Homo sapiens: one gene and its partner. The protein of the gene in region 1 interacts with the protein of each later gene in a pairwise test. Each region holds a gene or a part of one and is shown on either strand. Other genes may lie near its edges.

The links.
Region 2: the proteins of FAM24B (region 1) and LEUTX interact in binary tests that used the Homo sapiens proteins (3 or more experiments, as listed by UniProt).

Annotation. Positions count from the first base shown.
Region 1 is NC_000010.11:122,869,351-122,873,167, forward strand, and holds part of FAM24B (protein FAM24B precursor), read right to left. Parts: intron 1-3,817.
Region 2 is NC_000019.10:39,777,123-39,781,675, reverse strand, and holds the start of LEUTX (paired-like homeodomain transcription factor LEUTX), read right to left. Parts: upstream 2,823-4,553; 5' UTR 2,756-2,822; coding exon 2,749-2,755; intron 1-2,748.

The DNA of each region.
Region 1 (3,817 bases):
CACTGTCAACATTAGGCAGATCAACCAGACAGAAAGTTAACAAGGATATCCAGGAATTGAACTCAACTCTGCACCAAGTGGACCTAACAGACATCTACAGAACTCTCCACCCCAAATCAACAGAATACACATTCTTTTAAGCACCACACCACACCTATTCCAAAATTGACCACATACTTGGAAGTAAAGCACTCCTCAGCAAATGTAAAAGAACAGAAATTATAACAAACTGTCTCTCAGACCACAGTGCAATCAAACTAGAACTCAGGATTAAGAAACTCACTCAAAAGCGCTCAACTACATGGAAACTGAACAACCTGCTCCTGAATGACTACTGGGTACATAACGAAATGAAGGCAGAAATAAAGAGGTTCTTTGAAACCAACGAGAACAAAGACACAGCATACCAGAATCTCTGGGACACATTCAAAGCAGTGTGTAGAGGGAAATTTATAGCACTAAATGCCCACAAGAGAAAGGAGGGAAGATCTAAAATTGACACCCTAACATCACAATTAAAAGAACTAGAGAAGCAAAAGCAAACACATTCAAAAGCTAGCAGAAGGCAAGAAACAACTAAGATCAGAGCAGAACTGAAGGAAATAGAGACACAAAAAGCCCTTCAAAAAAATCAATGAATCCAGGAGCTGGTTTTTTGAAAAGATCAACAAAATTGATAGACCGCTAGTAAGACTAATAAAGAAGAAAAGAGAGAAGAATCACATAGACCCAATAAAAAATGACAAACGGGATATCACCACTGATCCCACAGAAATACAAACTACCATCAGAGAATACTATAAACACCTCTATGCAAATAAACTAGAAAATCTAGAAGAAATGGAAAAATTCCTCGACACATACACTCTCCCAAGACTAAACCAGAAAGAAGTTGAATCTCTGAATAGACCAATAACAGGTGCTGAAATTGAGGCAATAATTAATAGCTTACCAACCAAAAAAAGTCCAGGACCAGATGGATTCACAGCCGAATTCTACCAGAGGTACAAGGAGGAGCTGGTACCATTCCTTCTGAAACTATTCCAATCAATAGAAAAAGAGGGAATCCTCCCTAACTCATTTTATGAGGCCAGCATCATTCTGATACCAAAGCCCGGCAGAGACACAACCAAAAAAGAGAATTTTAGACCAATATCCTTGATGAACATTGATGCAAAAATCCTCAATAAAATACTGGCAAACTGAATCCAGCAGCACATCAAAAAGCTTATCCACCATGATCCAGTGGGCTTCATCCCTGGGATGCAAGGCTGGTTCAACATATGCAAATCAATAAACGTAATCCAGCATATAAACAGAAACAAAGACAAAAACCACAAGATTATCTCAATAGATGCAGAAAAGGCCTTTGACAAAATTCAACAACCTTCATGCTAAAAACTCTCAATAAATTAGGTATTGACGGGACGTATCTCAAAATAATAAGAGCTATCTATGACAAACCCATAGCCAATATCATACTGAATGGACAAAAACTGGAAGCATTCCCTTTGAAAACTGGCACAAGACAGGGATGCCCTCTCTCACCACTCCTATTCAACATAGTGTTGGAAGCTTTGGCCAGGGCAATCAGGCAGAAGAAGGAAATAAAGGGCATTCAATTAGGAAAAGAGGAAGTCAAATTGTCCCTGTTTGCAGAGGACATGATTGTAAATCTAGAAAACCCCATCGTCTCAGCTCAAAATCTCCTTAAGCTGATAGGCAACTTCAGCAAAGTCTCAGGATACAAAATCAATGTACAAAAATCACAAGCATTCTTATACACCAACAACAGACAAACAGAGAGCCAAATCATGAGTGAACTCCCATTCACAATTGCTTCAAAGAGAATAAAATACCTAGGAATCCAACTTACAAGGGATGTGAAGGACCTCTTCAAGGAGAACTACAAACCACTGCTCAATGAAATAAAAGAGGATACAAACAAATGGAAGAACATTCCATGCTCATGGGTAGGAAGAATCAATATTGTGCAAATGGCCATACTACCCAAGGTAATTTATAGATTTAATGCCATCCCCATCAAGCTACCAATGACTTTCTTCACAGAATTGGAAAAAACTACTTAAAAGTTCATATGGAACCAAAAAAGAGCCCGCATCGCCAAGTCAATCCTAAGCCAAAAGAACAAAGCTGGAGGCATCACGCTACCTGACTTCAAACTATACTACAGGGCTACAGTAACCAAAACAGCATGGTACTGGTACCAAAACAGAGATATAGACCGATGGAACAGAACAGAGCCCTCAGAAATAATGCCGCGTATCTACAACTATCTGATCTTTGACAAACCTGACAAAAAGAAGAAATGGGGAAAGGATTCCCTATTTAATAAATGGTGCTGGGAAAACTGGCTAGCCATATGTAGAAAGCTGAAACTGGATCCCTTCCTTACACCTTATACAAAAATTAATTCAAGATGGATTAAAGACTTACATGTTAGACCTAAAACCATAAAAACCCTAGAAGAAAACCTAGGCAATACCATTCAGGACATAGGCATGGGGCAAGGACTTCATGTCTAAAACACCAAAAGCAATGGCAACAAAAGCCAAAATTGACAAACGGGATCTAATTAAACTAAAGAGCTTCTGCACAGCAAAAGAAACCACCGTCAGAGTGAACAGGCAACCTACAGAATGGGAGAAAATTTTTGCAACCTACTCATCTGACAAAGGGCTAATATCCAGAATCTGCAATGAACTCAAAACAAATTTACAAGAAAAAAACAACCCTATCAAAAAGTGGGCGAAGGATATGAACAGACACTTCTCAAAAGAAGATATTTATGCAGCCAAAAAACACATGAAAAAATGCTCATCATCACTGGCCATCAGAGAAATGCAAATCAAAACCACAATGAGATACCACCTCATACCAGTTAGAATGGCAATCAGTAAAAAGTCAGGAAACAACAGGTGCTGGAGAGGATGTGGAGAAACAGGAACACTTTTACACTGTTGGTGGGACTGTAAACTAGTTCAACCATTGTGGAAGTCAGTGTGGCGATTCCTCAAGGATCTAGAAGTAGAAATACCATTTGACCCAGCCATCCCATTACTGGGTATATGCCCAAAGGATTATAAATCATGCTGCTATAAAGACACATGCACACATATATTTATTGTGGCATTATTCACAATAGCAAAGACTTGGAACCAACCCAAATGTCCAACAATGATAGACTGGATTAAGAAAATGTGGCACATATACACCATGGAATACTATGCAGCCATAAAAAATGATGAGTTCATGTCCTTTGTAGGGACATGGATGAAGCTGGAAACCATCATTCTCAGCAAACTATCGCAAGGACAGAAAACCAAACACCGCATGTTCTCACTCATAGGTGGGAATTGAACAATGAGAACACATGGACACAGGAAGGGGAACATCACACTCTGGGGACTGTGGTGGGGTGGGAGGAGGGGGGACGGATAGCATTAGGAGATATACCTAATGTTAAATGACGAGTTAATGGGTGCAGCACACCAACATGGCACATGTATACGTATGTAACAAACCTGCATGTTGTGCACATGTACCCTAAAACTTAAAGTATAACAATACAAAAATAAAATAAAATAAAAAAAGAACAGGTTGAAGCTAATAGAGGTCAGTTCATGAGGTTTAAAAAATAAACCATCTCCATAACATAAAAGTGCAAGGTGTAACAGGAAGGTACAGCAAGTTATCTAGAAGCTGCTCTAGCTAGGATAATTCATGAAGGTGGCCACATTTAACAATGGATTTTCAGTATAGATGAAAACAGACTTCTATAGGACAAAGATGCCCT
Region 2 (4,553 bases), on another chromosome or scaffold:
AAGGGGAGCCAAGGTGTTACATGGTGAGAGTGGGAGCAAGAGACAGCAGGGGAAGGTCCCAGACTCTTTTAAACAACCAGATCTCAGGTGAACTTAGAGATAGAGAACCCACTCATTACCATGAGGATGGCACTAAGCCATTCAGAGGGATCTGCTCTCATGATCCAAACCCCTTCCACCAGGCCCACCTCCAACACTGGGGATCACATTTCAACATGAGATTTGGAGGGGACAAATATGCAAACTGTATTAGTGCATAATGGGAGTTTTTACTATGGTTTAGAATATAAATAAGACCTCATCATCTAGTAAAACCTGATTCTCATGGTCATCTATTTTATAGGAAAGTTTCTATTTTCAGGATGCTCTTATTCCTCATGCAAATACATGGAAAAACAGAAGCCAACATGCTGCCCAATTATCGCACAGTGAAGACAAGTGATCGGGCACATGGGTTTCTCTTAGTGTCTCAGCATTTGTTTAGACACAAAGGGAGAACAAAAATTTACAGGACATTGAAGAAAAATTCTCAAACAGGAAGGGGACAGCAAGAAAGGGAGAGAGGGAGAGACAGAGAGAAAGAGAGAAAAAAGAAAGGGAAAGTGGAAGAGAAAAAGAAAGAAGAGGAGGAAAGCAGCAAATAACCACATTTTTTCTTAAGAAAAGAAATAAGGCTGGGCACGGTGGCTCATGCCTGTAATACTAGCACTTTGGGAGGCCAGGGAGGGTGAATCACTTGAGATCAGGAGTTCAAAACCAGCCTGGCCAACATGGTGAAACCCCATCTCTACTAAAAATATAAAACAATTAGAAAAAAATTACAAAAAAAAAGAAAATCTATAAATGTTAAAATTAATATGCTCGGATAAAAGATATTGCACTCATACATCAAGAAAGTCTTGAAAAGAAAGGAAAATCTGATAAGACAAATGTTCTTTGAAATCAGTAGCTAAAAAGAAACCCTTAGGCAATAATAGAAGAGTTGGAAGACAAAGCTATTCCAGGAAGTAGAAAAAGTATACAAAAGTGGACAAAAAGAGTGAAAAGGTCGGAAAAAAATAAGATCTCTGCTCAGGGATGTCCAGCACTAGCAATATTTATGTGACTAAAAATATCTCTGACTAAAAAATGTTTCAGAGAGTATCATGAAAGTATTTATTAAAAAAAATTCAAGATTTGAGAGATGAGGCACAGGGGTTTCCAGAATGAAGACATTCCACGATGAGCACAATAAATGAACAAAAGGATCGTTGTTGCAAAAATATCAGAATACCAGGAATATATAGAAATTTCCAGAAGCTTCTAAAGGGAAGTAGAATTTCCATCAAAGGAATGGTAATTAGAATTCTACTGGTCTTTAGAAAAGCAACACTGCACATTGATAAGTTATAGGAGGTAAAATCGAGGAAGGATGTGGCTTTGAGTTTAAAATCATCTACCAAGCTGAGAGGTCAATATGTAAAATCGACTAATTAGTATTTTTGTAAGTTTAGTATTAAACAATAGGAAAATGTATTAGAAGAGCCAGGTACAAGTTTTGATAAGTGAGCTTGTTGATGCATAATTTTTCTATTAGAATCAAATCATTTTAAGAAGTTAAAATAAAATGTAACTAAAATTACATTTATGTCCCCAGCCAAGAAATACACTTTTTTTGTTTTTGAGACAGAGTCTTGCTCTGTTGCCCAAGCTGGAGTACAGCGGTGCAATCTCAGATTGCTGCAACCTCTGCCTCCCAGGTTCAAGCAATTCTTGTGTCTCAGCCTCCCAAGTAGCTGGAACCACAGGCACATGCCACCATGCCTGGCTAATTTTTGTATTTTTAGTAGTGACAGGGTTTTGCCATGTTGTCCAGGCTGGTCTTGAACTCCTGGCCTCAAGAGATCCGCCTGCCTTGGCATCTGAAAGTGTTGGAATTACAGGTGTGAGCCACCATGCCCAGCCAGTAATATACTTCTAAACTACGTTTTACAAGTACAATTATAAAAGGAAAATGTTGATAAATATCACAATGACAACTTTTAGAATATTTGTACAACGGTACTCATAAGTAAATTGAAAAACACAAGCCAGGCTGGGAGAATATATTTGCAACACATATAAGAGATAAATTATTAGTGTCTAGAAGACAACAAAAATATTCTACTAAGCCTCAAGAAAAAAAACATACTAAAAACTGGGAAATGATATAAATATAAAAATTAGCATAGGGGAAAAACAGAATGGCCTTTAAAATAGAGTGAACAGATTCAATCACACGGGTTAGTAAAGAAATGGGAATTAAAGATCACATACTATTTTATACCCATCAATGGACTGACATTTAAAAAGTATGAAAGTTACCAGGCATTAAAAAGGATGTGAGTTCAAGACGACCTTAGGCAACAGAGTGAGATCCTGTCTCTACAAAAAATTTAAAAATTAGCGGGACATGGTGGCACACACTTATAAGTCCCAGCTACTCCTGAGGGTGAGGTGGGAGGATCACTAGGGCCTAGGAGCTCGAGGCCAGCCTGGGCAACATACCAAGACCCCATCTCTTTAAAAAAGAGATGTGGAGAAACAAATTCCTAAGTTACTAGAATCCCTTGCAAAGTGTTTTTCAAACAATCCTTGTTGGTATAACCCAGTGGTTTCTAAATTTACCCAGTGGTTTCTAAGAAGCCACCACAAGGTCCCACACCTCTCACTTGATTTGTCTGCAACCCAATCACTGAAACCCCAGCCTCTTGCCTTCGCCCAACTTACCAAACATGGTGTCCTCTAGAAATGAGTGGGTTCGATCAGCTGTGTGCTGCAGAGCTCCTGAGCTGAGTCTATGTGACTGCTGGGCTAAAAGACCCGCTTATTTAAGCAGAATTTTAATGTAATCATGTCCCCACCCTGTCCTACCCTAATACCACGCCCTCCAATAATCCATTCAATATCTGTTTATTTAGAACCTATTATATGCCTGATGCTGTGTAGGGCACTGGGAATAAAACTATGTTTAAAAAAAAAAAAAAAAAAAAAGACTGATCCTTGACTCCAGAGAGTGGAAGAAAACAAAAGAAAGTGGAGCGAACTGAAAATGGATAAAATGTTCAAAAATGTCACTTGGGATCAATGAGTAAATAAACAAGGCGCTGAGAGAAAAATAAGTTGGTAAGATGATTCAAACTGGAAGGTGAAGGAGGTGCCCTGTGCGTGGACGGCTTCCAGTGAGACCCGGAGTGCAGCAGGAGGCATCCTGCTAGGAGTTTGGGATGATGGGAGTTAAGCCCTTCACCCGCCCATCTCGGTTCAACCTCTTCCAGTTGAGACAGCAATGGATGACAGTGAAGAACTTGGCAGAGCCTAAACCATAGGGGATCTTGTATCTTCTCTTGAGTATGGATTTGGGGGCAGCTGGGGAGCCCATAACGAGTTTTCAGCAAGGAAACTTAAAATATAAATTGCATTAAAAGAATCATGCTTCTTTCTTTCCTCTGAGCATCCCTCTCTCTGTCCCTCTGTTACTCATTTACTCCACCTTTCAGGCACCTTATTAACTCATTTATTTATTCCTCCCCCTAACGTTCTTCTCCATGATGGGTCTTATTTGTGGGGTGAGTGTAATTCACTAGACAGATCTAGTCTCTATCCATGAGATATGGCCTCCCCACACTCAATGTGGACCCAAGCTTTCTGAAGCAGAGATGGGACTCTGGTCTTGGCCCATCTTATACTACCCCTCAACTCTGTCCTCTCCCGCAACCTCCACACCCCCACCAGGTTGGTTTGGAAAAGTCTTGGACTAGCGAAAGAACTCTGTCTCTGGGAACATTGCAGGTAGCCTGAAGGCCAAATGATTGAAGGACCCATCTGTATCTTTTTACGTTTTGTTTTAGGGTCTCACTCTGTTGCCCAGACTAGAGTGCAGTGGTGCCATCATAGCTCACTGCAGCCTTCAACTCCTGGGCTCAAGAGATCGTCCAGCCTTGGCCTGCCAAAGTGCTAGTGAGCCATTGCACCTGGCCCCATCTATGTCTTTTACAGGAATAAAATTCAGGAACACTTCTAACACAGTCAAGGGTAGAAACTCCCAAATCCTATCGGAAAGGATAAAGTGGGCCTCAAATTTTCCGTTTAAATGTTAGAATCAGTCCCTGGAGTTGCCCTATGACACTAATGAGGATGGAAAGAGAGTGATATATTCAAAGGGTATGACCTCCCCAATAGCAGGGAATTTTGCAGAACTTAACGTTAAAACACCCCTGACACTTCTTCATTTGTTTGCTTAATTATTTGAATGCCTGCTCTGCTAAGATTTGTTCCAGTGACTAGGAAATTGGGATTTACAAAAATAGAACTCACTGCCGCCTTCCCAAGTGCTGGCATTCTAGGGAGGGAAGCAGGAAATAAAAAAGGAAACAAGACAATACGCAGTTCTGATTATGATACTACTGGTGTTATGAATGCCACCAACAGCACTGATTCAGAGGATGTGCAGTAGTTTTAAGGTAAGGTAAGATGTCTCTGAGGAAGTATCATTTTCACTGAAGGAGAGGGAAGAGTGTTCTAAGCAAAGGGAA